Regions from separate parts of the Homo sapiens genome. Here region 1 is linked to region 2. Evidence: fine-mapped expression QTL. Tissue or cell type: whole blood. Region 2 holds a variant in brackets; the other region holds the start of a gene. All regions are shown on one strand. Distances are from middle to middle.

Evidence for each region. PIP is the estimated chance that this variant, and not a neighbour inherited with it, causes the effect.
Region 1: PLPP5 starts here. The variant in region 2 is fine-mapped to the expression of PLPP5 in whole blood (INTERVAL, PIP above 0.99).

What each region holds. Positions count from the first base shown.
Region 1 is chr8:38,264,446-38,272,542 of GRCh38, reverse strand. PLPP5 (phospholipid phosphatase 5) reads left to right here and starts at 3,319. Exons shown (of 7, transcript NM_001102559.2): 1 at 3,319-3,417; 2 at 3,553-3,661; 3 at 4,082-4,172; 4 at 4,583-4,646; 5 at 5,152-5,276; 6 at 6,232-6,402; 7 at 7,939-8,097. The coding sequence starts at 3,344. It overlaps NSD3 (nuclear receptor binding SET domain protein 3), which reads left to right. Exons shown (of 24, transcript NM_023034.2): 24 at 1-2,839. It also overlaps a transcript of DDHD2 not described here. RefSeq lists a silencer at 3,121-3,600.
Region 2 is chr8:38,185,784-38,193,888 of GRCh38, reverse strand. It overlaps BAG4 (BAG cochaperone 4), which reads right to left. Exons shown (of 5, transcript NM_004874.4): 2 at 1,094-1,201. Among named protein-coding and RNA genes, the nearest start is that of BAG4, 13 kb to the right of the region's middle. The variant A/CAACAACAACAACAAA (reference allele first, on the strand shown) is at 4,076.

The DNA of each region.
Region 1 (8,097 bases), 79 kb before region 2:
GTGCAGGGGAGGGAGGGGCTGGACCGCCACTGCTGCGAGGGAAGAATCAGAAGAGCTGCCTGTGGCTGGCTGAGAAGGGCAAGGTGGATGGCTCTTCATTCCTGGAAGGCTGAAGCAGCCAGAGGCAGTGATTCACCTCTTTAATGTCTAATCAGGGAGAGATACAGGAGTGAGGTGGGTTTTATTTTCATTTTTGTTTTAACAAGTTCCCACTCTTATCTTAATTCTCAAAAATGATCTGGCCTCATCTATAGAACTGGCTGAGTTGGGGAATCATTTAAAATTTGGGATTTTCTGTACAAGTCAAGAACATATGTGAAAGCTAAAAAAGTAATGGAGGCAGGGGGACTGCTCCCAGCTCCCTTCTGCCATTTACACAAAATATTTGAAAACATGTCTGTAAATAACGTTGTGGAACTGAGATATTGAGTATCTAATCATGTAAAGGACCCTCAGATGGGACAGGCTATTGGACAACTTTCCTGGTTCATGAAGTGGAATTTCCTTTTTGAGTAGTTTCTTGCATGGTGTATTCCAATAGGTCAAACCCAGACCTACTGTTTGCAAACAGGCCATCTGTAGAGAATACAATCTCTGGACTGCCCAGGACTTGTTGCTTGTCTTTCATTTCATTTTAAATACAAAGCTCTTCCTTTAGCATTCACCTTGAAGTCAAGGTGTTGGCTGCCACATGCCATGTCCTCTTAACAAGATAAGAAAACAGTGGCTATGGAGCCCTCACAGCTGGGAAGCTGACATTCTATACTTCCATATGAGAAAAAGGACATTGGAAAGTTGCTTTATTTCTGGGCAGCGTAGACTAAAGTTACTTTTCACAAGGCTGATGCATCCAGCCTCCCCCAGTTGTCCAAGTTGGTGCAGACATGAATTGATGAATGGAAACACTTTCCTTTGGCCTAGGGCCACCTAGAATTGGTCTCTGGTTATTTGTAAAACAAAAAGTAGAACTTGCTTCCATTTTCAGATGGACTAGGGAATACTATAATTAGACAGCTTTGCAATGAATTAACAAATACTGAAAAGTTGGAAATGTGTATATACTGAAATCTCACCAACTTTTACCTGGGGTGGGGTACCAGGAGAAAGGGAACCCCCTTTCTCCTGGTAAAGGGTAAGGGGGGGGATAATGTTTACCACAGGTACGAAATAGTCACTTTAACATTGAGACCTCTGCCTCATTGAATTCAGGTTTTTTAAGTACTTGAAACTCTTCAGATTCTCCTTATTTTAGTTTCTTTTTACATTTATGAAGTAGAAAGCATTGTTTTGTAAACTGTTTTGAAAATAAATAGCCTAGTCTCTTATCCTCTTTAGCGTGGATTAAAGGTGAAGTTCTGCAAATGGGAGAGTGTTCACAGTAGATAGCTCAGATTGATTGAACACATTTGAGGAAGAGACTCCTGCATGAGATACCAGCATTTTTACAAATACTTTTTATGTACATTCTTTATTTTGTCATTTTGTCAACCCTCTCCCCAAGCACATCTTCTTTCCTTTTACTATGTCTATGTAGGGAAAAAAACAAAACAAAAAATTGCACTTACGTTACACTCCCAAAATGTGGGTAATCCGTGTCTTTCAAAAAACATTTCTGTTTTTTGTTTTGTTTTGGTCAGTCCATTGCATAAGTGACAAGTTTGGGTGCTTGTGGCACGTATGTATGAAGCGGGAGGGGGATGAGAATTGCCTGTCCTTCAGTAGGCTGTAAAAGTAATTTACATGTAAGTAAAAAGGGAAAATAGAATAGATGCCAAAGTCATTTATTCAGTCCTTAGTTTTCTTATGTGGCATTACTGCATCTGCTAGTTAGTGAGAAAGCACCCTCAGCTTTTACTGCTCCCCTCCCTGCCTGCCAACACACTTGATGTGTGCAAACAGCCCTCAAGTATCTGTCAGATGACCTATATAAGGTATTGAATAAGGTATTCTTGTCAGTTTAGAAATGGACTGGATAAAACTTACTTGGTTGTCATTATTTTATCTCATTTGTCCTGTTACATGCCCTATGTTAAGATAATTATATTGCCACTAATAATCAAGATGCTAAATGAGTATTACAACTGGCTAATATCATTTTTTATATACAAGGGTATGTGTATATTTGGAATTGATATGAGAAACTCATTTGTACCCATTTGAGTGATATTGCACAACAAACACAGATACCTACAGACTCCGTTTTCATTTTCTCGTGTTCTTTATGATAATGATCTTTGTAGATTGGTTATTTCTGTACTTTATCTGTAATAAACTTTGTAGATCCTGTGAACCATTACTTTGCCTAAATCACTTGAGACTTGAGTCTTTAATAACAAAGCATCAATATTCACTAAAGTCAATCTCTTTTGAGTTTCTGTGACTTGGCTAGAAGCTCTTGACACTAAGGGATTAGTGTTAATTTTCCCTGGGGGTGTTCCACTAGGGCATTACTGTATAATGACTTGATGTTGCCACATAGACTTCAAGATATATAATATTTTGAGGATTTTGTTGATTGGCCTATGTTTTATTGCATAGTGTGAAACGTGTAAAGCTTGGTTAACCTGTATATAGATAGCTTATTGTTGACTAGTTATAGTGTATTTAGGGTTGCCTGTAATATTTAAGCTTCTTTACTGATGTGTGTGCTGGTAGGAACATATAATTTTTGTACATTATATTTACTGAGATGTTGCCTTTTTTATTTTACAAATACTTTGGAATTCCAATGTGTTTTTTGCTTCCGTGAGGATTAATTTGGAAAGGTTTTTAATGACATTCCACTGATTTCAGATTTTGCTTGAGATTGACTTCAATAAATTGTCCTGTATGTTCCAAATTAAATATGTGGGCTTGTTCTTTGCCAATAATTTTTTGCTACAACACTCTGGGCAGGAGGCCATCCTGGGTGGGAGGACTAAATGACACAATCCAGCCAACCTCAGGTAGTGTAGCTTCCTGCAGAATGCGGCTGTGTTGCTAAGGAACGAGGATCTGAGAGCGGGCTGTTTGGTTTTCCATTTAGAGGCGAGGTCCCGGGAGAAGGCTGCTCCCCGCGGTGGTGTGGTTGGGCCGTGGAGACGAGCTGCTGATGATGGACCGTACGCCGACCTACTCGGCTGGAACTGGGGCGCTGGCTCCCTGCTGAACGCACCAGAGGGCAGCTCCGCTGGCTTTGCGTACCCTTTGCCAGACGATGCCCTCGGCACAGCCGCCAGGCCGTCTTCCTGGGGAGCCGCCGGAGCGCGGGCAACTGGGAGAGGGGGCGGTGCCCAGTTCCCGGCCCGGCCCTCCCCGCGGAGGTGGCCACGTCAGCGCAGCGTCGCTCGGAGCTCGCGGCCGGATGGGGAAGGCGGCGGCGGCGGTGGCCTTTGGGGCCGAAGTGGGCGTGCGGCTCGCGCTGTTCGCGGCCTTCCTGTAAGAAAGATCCACGGCCGGGCCCGGGCGGCCCCGCTTCCCAGGCAGGCGGGCGGCACGGGGCGGCGGGTCGGGCAGTGGGGAAGCGGGGAGGAAGCCAGGCGACCTGCTCTGCGCTTCTTTGTTCCCCTCTAGGGTGACGGAGCTGCTCCCCCCGTTCCAGAGACTCATCCAGCCGGAGGAGATGTGGCTCTACCGGAACCCCTACGTGGAGGCGGAGTATTTCCCCACCAAGCCGATGTTTGTGCGTGGAGAAAGATCGTCTTTCCTCCCTCCCCATGACCCGGCTTCCCGCGGGCACCTGTGCGTTTTCCACCCCGAGACGGCCTTTGTAGGGACCCACTGCCCACTCCGCTGCTGTGCGCTGGGTTCCGCCTCCTAGGGCTCGAGTGTTTAAGATCCTGATTGAGAGAGGAGGGTGTCCGAGCCTCTTTGGGCTGAGACAACGTTTTCCCGGGCGCTCTGTGCCTCAGCCTGAGGTACCGGGGCCCGAGCCGCACGGGCGCTGCTGTTCACTGGTGGCGCTGCCTGGCGCCCGGTTACGCGCACTCAGAGACCTTATGTTAGCTCCAGTGAGTCCTGCTGTGTCACATCCCTCTTTCCTGTAGGAGCACGAGTGTGGCTTTTTTTTGGATTGTTTTTAACCTCTGACATTCTGATTCAGGTTATTGCATTTCTCTCTCCACTGTCTCTGATCTTCCTGGCCAAATTTCTCAAGAAGGCAGACACAAGAGACAGCAGACAAGCCTGCCTGGGTGAGCGCTAGCCCTTTCGGGCCGGTTTCTTCGTGCTGGGAACCTAGGAGGTCGTTGTGGGATTCAGCCACGGTGAGCCTGTGTGGAGGCCACTGAGTTCTGCATTCCTAAAGGAACTCTATCCCCGCGGGAGAGGAAAATAGCACTGCAGGGACTTGGTTACGCAGGCTACACGGCAGGCAGCCCTGTGCCTAAATGCACTGGGTTATTTGTACCTCAGAAATGTCTTTGGCCTAGTACAAAAGTTCTCGGCTACAAAAGAGTGATCACTGAGGACCCTAATTATTTTTGTGCCCAGGCCTGGTTGGATTCTATCCATCTCAGAAACAGCACGGCTGCTCTCATAACGAGGCCATGACCATACCTTTCCTCCTAGACAGATCCTTTCAACTAATGGCTTTGCTTTGCAGCTGCCAGCCTTGCCCTGGCTCTGAATGGCGTCTTTACCAACACAATAAAACTGATCGTAGGGAGGTAAGTGACAACAGCTAACCACCCCAGCATCTGCCTCAGCCCTTACCCACCAGAACAGAGAGGTTAATGGTGTCCACCACACGTCTTTCTCATTCTTTTCTCCTTTATCTTCACTCTGATTTTTCTTTTGTCATTCAACGCTTACTCCCTTCCCCATACCTCAGTCCTCCAGGTGACACCTGGGCTCTTTTCTGCCTGAACAGCATTTCCCACCAACGGCCACAGCAGTCGGTCAGTGTCCTCTTGAGCACCTCCTGAAGCTGCAGTGTCATTTGCTGTTTGCCCTAAAAAGTAATCATGTGCTGGAATGGGCGTTTTTCCCCTAATTTAAATGCTCACCTTGAAAGGCTTTTCTCTTAGTGTGGTGACTATACTAAGCCAGTTACCTTATTTTGCCTGGGGCACTATTTGACCAATAGTTAACAGGATTATTAATGTCTGCTACAACTGAAAAATAATTTCTGGAGTTAATGATTTACGTTCCAACCATGCTGCTTTCTTCCAGGCCACGCCCAGATTTCTTCTACCGCTGCTTCCCTGATGGGCTAGCCCATTCTGACTTGATGTGTACAGGGGATAAGGACGTGGTGAATGAGGGCCGAAAGAGCTTCCCCAGTGGACATTCTTCCTGTATGAATATCATATGGACTCTACCCTATGCTTGTTTTCACATCATTGAATTTAACCTAGAAAGCTAGTAGGGATGGGAAAATCTGACTACTCTTGTTTCTACAATTTGGAAAATCCCCCCTTCTTTAGTAACTCCACAGTTTAACAAGTCTGAGCCTTGACTATTTGGGTAAATATTACAGAACAGAAAGGTAGTTTACCTTCATGAGATTTGCACATTTAATTGTTATATTATTTGCCTAGATCCTGCAATCTTGTACTAGCAATAAAAATACCTTTAACGAAGAGTTTCTATGTGTCAGGTACTTTGAAGCATTTTCATTTCTTACCTAATTATAGCTCACAATAATCCAATGAGGTGGGGACTATTGTATTTATGAGTCCCATTTATAGATGAGGAAACTAAAGCATCAACAAGTTGATACATATAGCTAGTATACCGAAAACTATACTCAGATAAAACATTAACTTTGGGGCACTAAGTCCTTCATTTTTCTTTTTGTTTCCCTTTCCTTCACAATGACTTACACTATAAGTATACACAAAAAAGGATTAAAACACCCTCATGGCCGGGTGTGGTGGCTCATACCTGTAATCCCAGCAATTGGGAGGCCAAGGCATGCAGGTCACTTGAGGCCAGGAGTTCAAGACCAGGCTAGCCAACATGGTGAAATCCCAACTCTACTAAAAATAAAAAAATTAGCTGGGCATGGTGGCACACACATGGAGTCCCAGCTACTCGGGAGGCTAAGGCAGGAGAATCGCTTGAACCCGGGTGGTGGAGGTTGCAGTGAGCCGAGATGGTGCCACTGCACTCCAGCCTGGGCGACAGAGCAAGACTGTCTCAAAAAATAAATAAATAAAAACATACTCATGCTTCCTAGCCTCCTATGTGGGGATGAATGAGGTAGCTTCCTTTAAAAGACAAACCACTTAAAAGTTTTTCTTGTTCCAGTTGCATTTGCTGGTCTGGCCTTTGCGTCCTTCTACCTGGCAGGGAAGTTACACTGCTTCACACCACAAGGCCGTGGGAAATCTTGGAGGTTCTGTGCCTTTCTGTCACCTCTACTTTTTGCAGCTGTGATTGCACTGTCCCGCACATGTGACTACAAGCATCACTGGCAAGGTAAGCAAAGTACTCAGGCTATGGAAGCTTGCATATTTCACTCATTTTATTCCTAGCACCTAGCACAGAGGAGATGCTTACTAAATATCTGCTGAATGAACAAATTAATGAGTATGGATGGTCTGGGTTCTGTACTAAGTACATTTAAAATTATAGGAAAGATAAGACAAAAAGAGTTTACCAAAGATAAACATCCTAATTTTTCCATTATTTGAAGCATTGTAAGTTCAAGTTAAACTGCATCTACAGGAAATTTAAAACCTCAAAGTTCAATTTACTCTCTTAAAAATCAGGTTCATTGTCATAGGACTTTTGTTCAAAAACATAAGTAAAATTCAAGAAAACATAAAATTATAATTAAACCAAACAAATTTAAGCTGAATGCTATAGTAAGTAAAATATCCAAATTACAGAACACCTGGCTTGGCGCGGTGGCTCACACCTCAGCACTTTGGGAGGCTGAGGCAGGCGGATCACCTGTAGTCAGGAATTCGAGACCAGCCTGGCCAACATATTGAAACCCCGTCTCTACTAAAAATACAAAAATTGAGGCCAGGTGCAGTGGCTCATGCCTGTAATCACAGCACTTTGGGAAGGTGAGGTAGGTGGATCACCTGAGGTCAGGAGTTGAAGACCAGCCTGACCAACAGTGAAACGCTATCTCTACTAAAAATACAAAATCAGCTGGGCATGGTGGCACACGCCTTTAATCCCAGCTACTTGGGAGGCTGAGGCAGGAGAATGGCTTGAACCTGACACAATTCCAAAAAAAACGCTGGAGGTATTGCCCACAGGTCCTCAGGAACCCTATTTTAAATTTTTAAATAAACTAGTTTTTTGCAAAGAGAAGCAACTCTTTTTTTTTTTTTTTTTTTTGAGACAGAGTCTAGCTCTGCGCCCAGGCTGGAGTGCAGTGGCACCATCTCGGCTCACTGCAACCTCCACCTCCTGGGTTCAAGCAAGTCTCCTGCCTCAGCCTCCTGAGTATCTGGGATTACAGGCACATGCCACCACGCCCGGCTAATTTTTGTATTTTTAGTAGAGACAGGGTTTCACTTGTTGGTCAGGCTGGTCTCAATCTCCTGACCTCGGGATCCATCTGCCTGGTCCTCCCAAAGTGCTGGGATTACAGGCGTGAGTCACCGTGCCCGGCGAGAAGCAACTCTTAAAATACTTTATTCCTTCCTCTAGGACCCTTTAAATGGTGAAAATGGGCAGATGAATAGCAATAAGTGGACCTTTGTTACTCTTCTGAGTTAGAAAAATTCTAATTTAGTACACTCTGAACAAAGCTTATTATACTTACTTAAGATGTGTTTTGATTTGGTGTTCAGAAAGCAACCTGACAATGATAATACTGTAACTATGATAAAATTGAGAATAAAAAGATTTTATTTAGAAATCATAAGTCTGGAATTGAGGTTATTTTAGCCCCACAGTAGAGTATCCTGGAGGGCCAGGTCCTCTATGCTATGTGTATGTAATAGGATTTAGGAGCCTAATATTAAGAGAAGACCTTGTTTCCACTCTCTTCAGATGTACTAGTTGGATCCATGATTGGAATGACATTTGCCTATGTCTGCTATCGGCAGTATTATCCTCCTCTGACTGATGCAGAATGCCATAAACCATTTCAAGACAAACTTGTACTTTCCACTGCACAGAAGCCTGGGGATTCTTATTGTTTTGATATTT
Region 2 (8,105 bases):
CACATGCCTGTAGTCCCAGCTACTTGGGAGGCTGAAGCAGGAGAATCACTTGAACCCAGGAGGCGGAGGCTGCAATGAGCCAAGATCATGCCACTGCACTCCAGCCTGGCGACAGAGCAAGACTCCATCTCAAAAAAAAAAAAAAAAATCAAAAAATTAGCTGGGTATGGTGGTGTGTGCCTGTAGTCCCAGCTACTCAGGAGGCTGAGGCAGGAGAATCACTTGAACCTGTGAGGAGGAGGGTGCAGTGAGCTGAGATCATACCACTGCACTCCAGCCTGGGCAACAGAAAATGACCCTGTTTCAAATAAATAAATAAATAAAATTTCAGTAAATGAAAAGAAGTGTCATTGGGCTTCAATTGTATTTGGTTTACTTCTTTCTTAAAAATCTGAAACAAATGTGGCAAACAGAAATTGACAAATCTGCATGCTAGATTTTCGTGGGGTTTTTTTGTTTGTTTTTTGTTTTGAGACGGAGTCTCACTCGTCGCCCAGGCTGGAGTGTAATGGTGTGATCTCAGCTCACTGCAACCTCCGCCTCCTGGGTTCAGGCGGTTCTCCTGCCTCAGCCTCCCGAGTAGCTGGGAGTACAGGCGCCCACCACCACACCCAGCTAATTTTTGTATTTTTAGTAGAGATGGAGTTTCACCATGTTGGCCAGGCTGGTCTTGAACTCCTAACCTCAGGTGATCTGCCTGCCTTGGTCTCCCAAAGTGCTGGGATTACAGCTGTGAGCCACTGCACCCAGCCCTGCATGCTAGATTTAAAATGTATATATTTTCTGTACTTTTTATAATTTTAAAATATTTTAAATTAAATGTCTGTAATCAGTAAAGTTTTCAAAAATAAGTATATTTTATGTTTGTTCCTTCTGGGTCCTGGAAAATAATTTATTATGCCTCAAGCTATAGGTATATTTGCCTAGATATTTCCTTATCTCTGAGCTAAAAACATTAAGATGAGATTGATGGAGCCCATTAAAGCAAAGAAAAAAAACACACACTCATCACTGCTCTAAAATCTGCACAGGTTTTGAAAATAAATCTATTCATTAAGAAAAAGTTCAGAAAGTCTCTGTTTTTAAACCATACCTGGCCTTGCAATTCTGGTCTTACAGGATATGTACTTGGGTAAGGAGCCCTAGATCTCGCAGTAGAATTCCAATAGTTAGAATTGTAGCTAGGATATGGTGGCTGCTCCTAAGAAAAAAAGAAAAATAAATTCACTCTTAATAACATTCATACATCATTTTAAGATAGATTGATAGAGGCAGGTTATAAGGATTAAAAAAAAAAGCAATAGACAAAAAGCAATAAGCTGGGCACAGTGGCACACGCTTCTTGTCCCACTACTGCGGAGGCTGAGGTGGGTGGATCGCTTGAGCTCAGGTGATTGAGTCTAGTATGGTCAAGAGAGACCCCGTCTCTTAAAAACAAAAAATAAAAGAAAAAAGGGAATAGGACCCCAACTATAAAACTGCTAATTATTCAGTACATGGTAAATCAAATGCTCTATGACAAAACAATTATTACCTAGTAAAAAGCTGTTCTTATCTGTTTCGACAATGCCACCACACCAAATGCTATATAAAGGAATTCTACTACATCAAGATGATTAGCAAAATCAGAGACATTAGATCACCTCTATCCTTCTCCAATAACTAATCCTCAAGACTACTAATTTAATTAGTGCAACAAAATGGTTCTTTGCTACTGTTATATTTACCAATAACTTTGGAACACAAAGACATTACTACTAGAGTTTCGCTCAAGCACATACATCTTCAATCTCCAACTTCTTTGCCTTGACACACCCTAGTTTTTCATATTCTACTCTGTGCTATGGCTAAGCTTTCCGCTGGCAGCCTCAGTGTCAGGCATTGATGCAGAACATTTACCAATCCAAAGAGAAAATCTAGCTACGACAATAATTTCATCAGCCTTTCTCTCCAACTCAGAAAGTTAACGCATGATTTGCAATAAGCCAATAAACTTTGATAAAAGACTAAATATACTCAAAACTTCTCAGAGCACCTATTATCTGGTTTATTACATACATTTATTATCCTATGAGTTATTTTGCTTTCAACTGTATAGATTTAGGGTTTTTTTTTTTTTTTTTTTTTTGAGACAGAGTTTCGCTCTTGTTGCCCAGGCTGGAGTGCAATGGCACGATCTCGGCTCACTGCAACCTCCGCTTCCCAAGTTCAAGCAATTTTCCTGCCTCAGCCTCCTGAATAGCTGGGATTACAGGCACCTGCCACCACGCCCAGCTAATTTTTTGTACTTTTAGTAGAGACCGGGTTTCACTATTTTGGCCAGGCTGGTCTTGAACTCCTGACCTCAGGAGATCCACCCGGCTTGGCTTCCCAAAGTGCTGGAATTACAGGCGTGAGCCACACTGTGCCCGCCCAAGTATAGTTTTAAGCTTGAACAGGACCTTCGACATTTTTTCTAAAACTTTGAATATGATTTCACAAAGAAATTCATTGGCAGCTGAAATAACTGAGAGATTATCACTATTAGCTTAACTGCACTACTTATCCATTTCATAATACTTTGTTTTCAGTAATACTTTGAATTTTTTTCAGTAATCATAATTATCAACACTGTTGGTACTGTTTGTTATCTTGGTACTGTTATGCGGGTATTATAGTTGCAAATGAATACTTACATTGGTATTGTTGGGAATCAGTATTTTCACAATGGGAGATAGGAGACACAGATATAAGAATAATGAAACTTAAAACCTTATAATCCTTAATTTGAATTGTAAATATCAGTATGAATTCAAACTGTATTTTATCTTCTTTAAAAAACCACCAACTTGGCCAGGCACAGTGGCTCACGCCTGTAATCCCACCACTTTGGGAGGCCTGACGCGGGTGGATCACCTGAGGTCAGGAGTTCGAGACCAGCCTGGCCAACACGGTGAAACCCCGTCTCTACTAAAAATACAAAAATTAGCTGGGTGTGGTGGTGGGTGCCTGTAATCTCAGCTACTCAGGAAGCTGAGGCACGAGAATAGCTTGAACCCAGGAGACAGAAGTTGCAGTGAGCAGAGATCATGCCACTGCACTCCAGCCTGGGCCACAGAGCAGAGACTCCGTCTCAAAAAAAAAAAAAAAGACAACCCACCAACTTGGGCTGGGCGCAGTGGCTCAATCTGTAATCCCAGCACTTTGGGTAGCTGAGGCAAGAGGATTGCTTGGGGCCAGAGACCAGGAGTTCAAGACCAGCCTGGAAAATAATGAGACTCAGTCTTTACCCAAAAAAAAAAAAAAAAATGTCAGGTGGGCGTGATGATGGGTGCCTATAGTCCCAGCTACTCAGGAGGCTGAGAGGTGAGAGGCAGAGGCAAAGTCCAGAAATTCAAGGTTATGGTGAGCTATGATCTATGATTGTGCTACTGCACTCCAGCCTGGGCAACAGAGTAAGACCCCATCTTTAAAAAGAAAAAACCTACTGACTTGATAACCACACACAGAATATAATTCAAATAATTCTTGAACAGTTTTCTGAATGGACATCTTTAGTGGTACCTTTCTAAAAGCAAAAGAAATTTAAAAATATCTTAAACTCTTCATATAATGTTATTAGTAGTGATATTACTATCTTAATTTTTAAACTATATTGTGTGTATTGTAGAATAGAATAAATACATACAGTAGTGTTATTGGGAACCGATATTGTCACGAGGACAAGGAAAGATAAAATATGGAATGGGGCAAAATGAGGAAGAACTGGGGGATAGTGAATGTGGTGGTGTCATTACAAACTCACATAAGTAAAAAACATAATTTGGCTGGGTGCAGCGGCTCACACCTGTAATCCCAGCACTTTGGGAGGCCAAGGCAGGTGGATCACGAGGTCAGGAGATAGAGACCATCCTAGCTAACACGGTGAAACCCCATCTCTACTAAAAATACAAAAAATTAGCCAGGTGTGGTGGCGGGCGCCTGTAGTCCCAGCTACCTGGGAGGCGGAGCTTGCAGCAAGCCTAGATCACGCCACTGCACTCCAGCCTGGGCAACAGAGGGAGACTCCGTCTCAAAACAACAACAACAACAACAA[A/CAACAACAACAACAAA]ACGTAATTTAACCTTTTATGCAAAACAAACAAATATGGATAAAAGTGACAGTGTGCCAGTCCACACAAAGGATTTAGGAGTCGCTGCAAATTCTAGCAACCCTCTTGTGTTCCCATGCCCTCCACAAGACCTACATTATCTTATATGGGAGCTGTGTTTTCAACTGAAGTCCCAGGATGAGAAGACACACAGGTAGACCTGAACTGAACCTGGGGCCTAGAGAAGAACCACTAGAGTGGACTCACAGAACCTGAGCAAGAAATAAATGTTTATCATTATAAGCTACTAAAATTCTGGAATTGTTGTTTCAGTATAGGAAAAGTCAATTAATGCAATAACTAACAATCAAGTTGGTAACATAACCACAGAGAAAAAAGAATTACTTCAAATGACTTTTAGCTCACGTTATTTTGACTGTACGTCCTCAGTGGAATTTATTCTCTAAGGACAAGCTGAACTGCAAAGAAACCGAAACTGCATCCATTAGTTGTTACTCATAAAACTGGTATTCTTATTTTCAAGTTTTACTCACTACCATCCAATTCACCTATTTAAAGTATATAATTCAGGCCTGGCATGGTGGCTTACGTCTGTAATCCCAACACTTTGGGAGGCCGAGGTGGGTGGGTCACTTGAGGTCAGGAGTTCAAGACCGGCCGGGCCCACATGGTGAAACCTCGTCTCTAATAAAATACAAAAATGAGCTGGGTGTGGTGGCGGGCAGCTACTCAGGAGGCTGAGGCACGAGAATTGCTTGAACCCAGGAAGCAGAGGTGTAGTGAACTGAGATTGCACCACTGCACTCCAGCCTGGGCAACAGGGTGAGACTCCATCTCAAAAAAAAAAAAAAAATTAGCCGGGCATGGTGGCACACACCCGTAGTCCTAGCTACTTGGGAGGTTGAGGCAGGAAAATTGCTTGAACCTGGGAGGCGGAGGTTGCAGTGAGCCAAGATCGTGCCACTGCACTCCAGCCTGGGTGACAGAGCAAGGCTCCATCTCAAAGATAAACAAATAAATAAATAAAAAGTAAATAAAAAGCTGATATTAAAGTAGCCACTCCAGCTTTCTCATAGTTGCCTTTTGCATATTTTTATATATATATACATATATATGTATACATGTATATATGTATACATGTATATGTATACATGTATATATGTATACATGTATATATGTATATATATGTGTACATGTATATATATGTATACATGCATATATATATGTGTATACACGTATATATATGTATTTATATGTGCATATATGTAATTTTTAATTAATAAAAGTAGTACATATTTTTGGGATACATGTGATATTTTGATACATGTATATAAAGTGTAATGATCAAAACAGGGTAACTGGCATATCTGACACCTCAAACATTTATCTTTTCTTTATTGCATTATATTTCTTTTTCCATCCATTTACTTTCAAACTATTTGTATCTTTAAACCTTAAGTGTGCCACCTTTAGACACCATATAATTGGATCTTGTTTTTTTTTTAATCCAGTCTGTCTTCTGACTAGATTGCTTAATCCATGCACATTTAATATTATTGATATAGCTGGATTTACATGTTTTATTTTTACTTTTTGTTTTTTATATGTCTCATGTGTTTTTGTCCTTTATTCCACCTTTACTGCTTTCTTTTGCATTAAGTGAATATTTTCAAATGTAGCATTATAACTTAATGATTATACTTTTTTTTTCTTTAGCAGTTACTCTTGGGCTAACAATACACTTCTTCTTCTTCCTTTTTTTTTTTTTTTTTTTTTTGAGACGGAGTCTCACTCTATCACCCAGGCTGGAGTGCAGTGGCACGATCTCGGCTCACTGCAAGCTCCGCCTCCCGGGTTCATGCCATTCTCCTGCCTCAGCCTCCCAAGTAGCTGGGACTACAGGCGCCCGCCACCACGCCCGGCTAATTTTTTTTTTTTTTTTTTTTTGTATTTTTAGTACAGACAAGGTTTCACCATGTTAGCCAGAATGGTCTCGATCTCCTGACCTTGTGATCTGCCCACCTTGGCCTCCCAAATTGCTGGGATTACAGGCGTGAGCCACAGCACCCAGCTGGGCTAACAATATGCTTCTCATCAGAATCAGCTTCTGATTTATACCAACTTAATTCCAGTGAGATACAGGAATGCTATTCCTATATAAGTCTGTTCCTTTTCCCCTTTTTTGTGATTTTATTGTAATCCACATTATGTCTACAAATGTTACAAACTCAACATTATATTGTTATACTTATTACTTTATATAATGTCTTTTAAAGAATCTGAGAAGAAAAGAGCATATTTGCATCTTTTGTTATATTAACCTTGTTATTAATCATTTCTGATATGCTGGTGTGTTCAATGGTGTCTGACACTTCTCCAACACATCAGTCTTTTTTCTCTCCTTCATATTGCATAATCTGTATTGATCTATCTTCAAATTCATGAATTCTTTCTTCTGTCAGTTCTAGCCTATTGAACTCCTCTAGTTAATTTTTCATTTTAGTTACTGTACTTTTCAACTCCAGAATTTCTATTTGTTTCTTTTTTAATATATAATTGCTATCTCTTTATTGATATTCCCTATTTGACATGACATTATCACACACCTTTCTTTGCTTCTTTAATCATAGTTTTTTAGTTATTTGAACATATATAATGGCTACTTTGAAGTCTTTGTCTATTAAATGTGACATCTGGTCACTTTCACAATCAGTTTCTGTTACCTGCTTTTTTTCCAGTGTATGGGTCATACTTTCCTGTGTCTTTGCATAGCTCATAATTCTTTGTTGGAAACTAGACATTTTAGCAACTCTGAGTACTACTGGTCCCACCTTTTCCACCTTAGGCTTGTTATTGTCATTTGCTCATTTGTTTAGTAACCAGCTGGATTATTTTTGCAAAGTCTGTTTGCCCTCAAACTTCAAGTATGAAGTATGTGATATTGCTCATTAGAAGGCACAGCCTTGGGTATGCCCACAGTCATCCTGGATGACAAAGATTTTTGTAAGACTTTCTTTGAGTGTATCTTTCCTTGACCACATCTAGTTGTTAAAGCTTCACTAATTTCCAGCTGATTGCTCTACTGGTTTTAATAACACCCTGAGGCATAAATTGCTCCACAGACTGAGTAGATCAAATTTGGGTCCCTCTAAAGGGACAGTTAGTTCCCAAGGTCAGTGTTTGAGAGTTGTTCTGATACCAAAGGGCTCCTCCTAGCTTCTTCTTTTCCTGGTTCTCTCCAGCAAACTAGCTGGCCTACTAGTTTATCCTGCATCTCCAGTGAATCTAACCAGTCTCTTCCCTATTGCTTTGCACAACAACCTCCGCAGTTTTTTTGACTTTCTCCACACTCCTGAGCTTCTCCATACTTTGTTCCTTTAGGAAAAGATTAGGAGCTACCTGTTTTACAGCCTACTTCTGCTTCCAGATAAAACATCTGAGCCACTCTCTACAGCTAGAGTGGGGACAATGGTGTGTTTATCTGAATGGCATCCCTGCTTTACGAAGTGGAGTACCCACGGGAAGGGAGGCTGTAGACTTAGGGCTTCTCGGCTTGAAAAGCAAGGGTAAAGGAGATCAGAGCCCCAGTATTTTCAGCAGTGCCTTGCCCAAGGTCAAGTCTCCATCCTAGGAGTAGGGACTGGGTGAAAGAAAGGAACCACCACCACTCAGCCACAATTACCTAGAATTTTGCCTCAGTGACAGGCATCTGAGGCAAAATGAGAAATGTTGGTACGCTACTCCTCCTCCTAGGATGAAAACCTTCTGACTGAGGCTATGAGGTGGAATACATGGAGCTGGAGCCCTGTGTTCTTGGCTACACCCTCTAGAGTAAAGTTTCTATCTCACTAGCTGCAAAAAAGGAGGGATGGAGGAGCTTTTAGTTCAAATACCACAGACCCAATGTTCTTACTGACTTTTGTAGATTTTCTTGAACAAGTGTTTCTTCATGGCCAGGCGCGGTGGCTCACACCTATAATCCCAGAACTCTGGGAGGCCAAGGCAGGTGGATCACGAGGTCAGGAGTTCA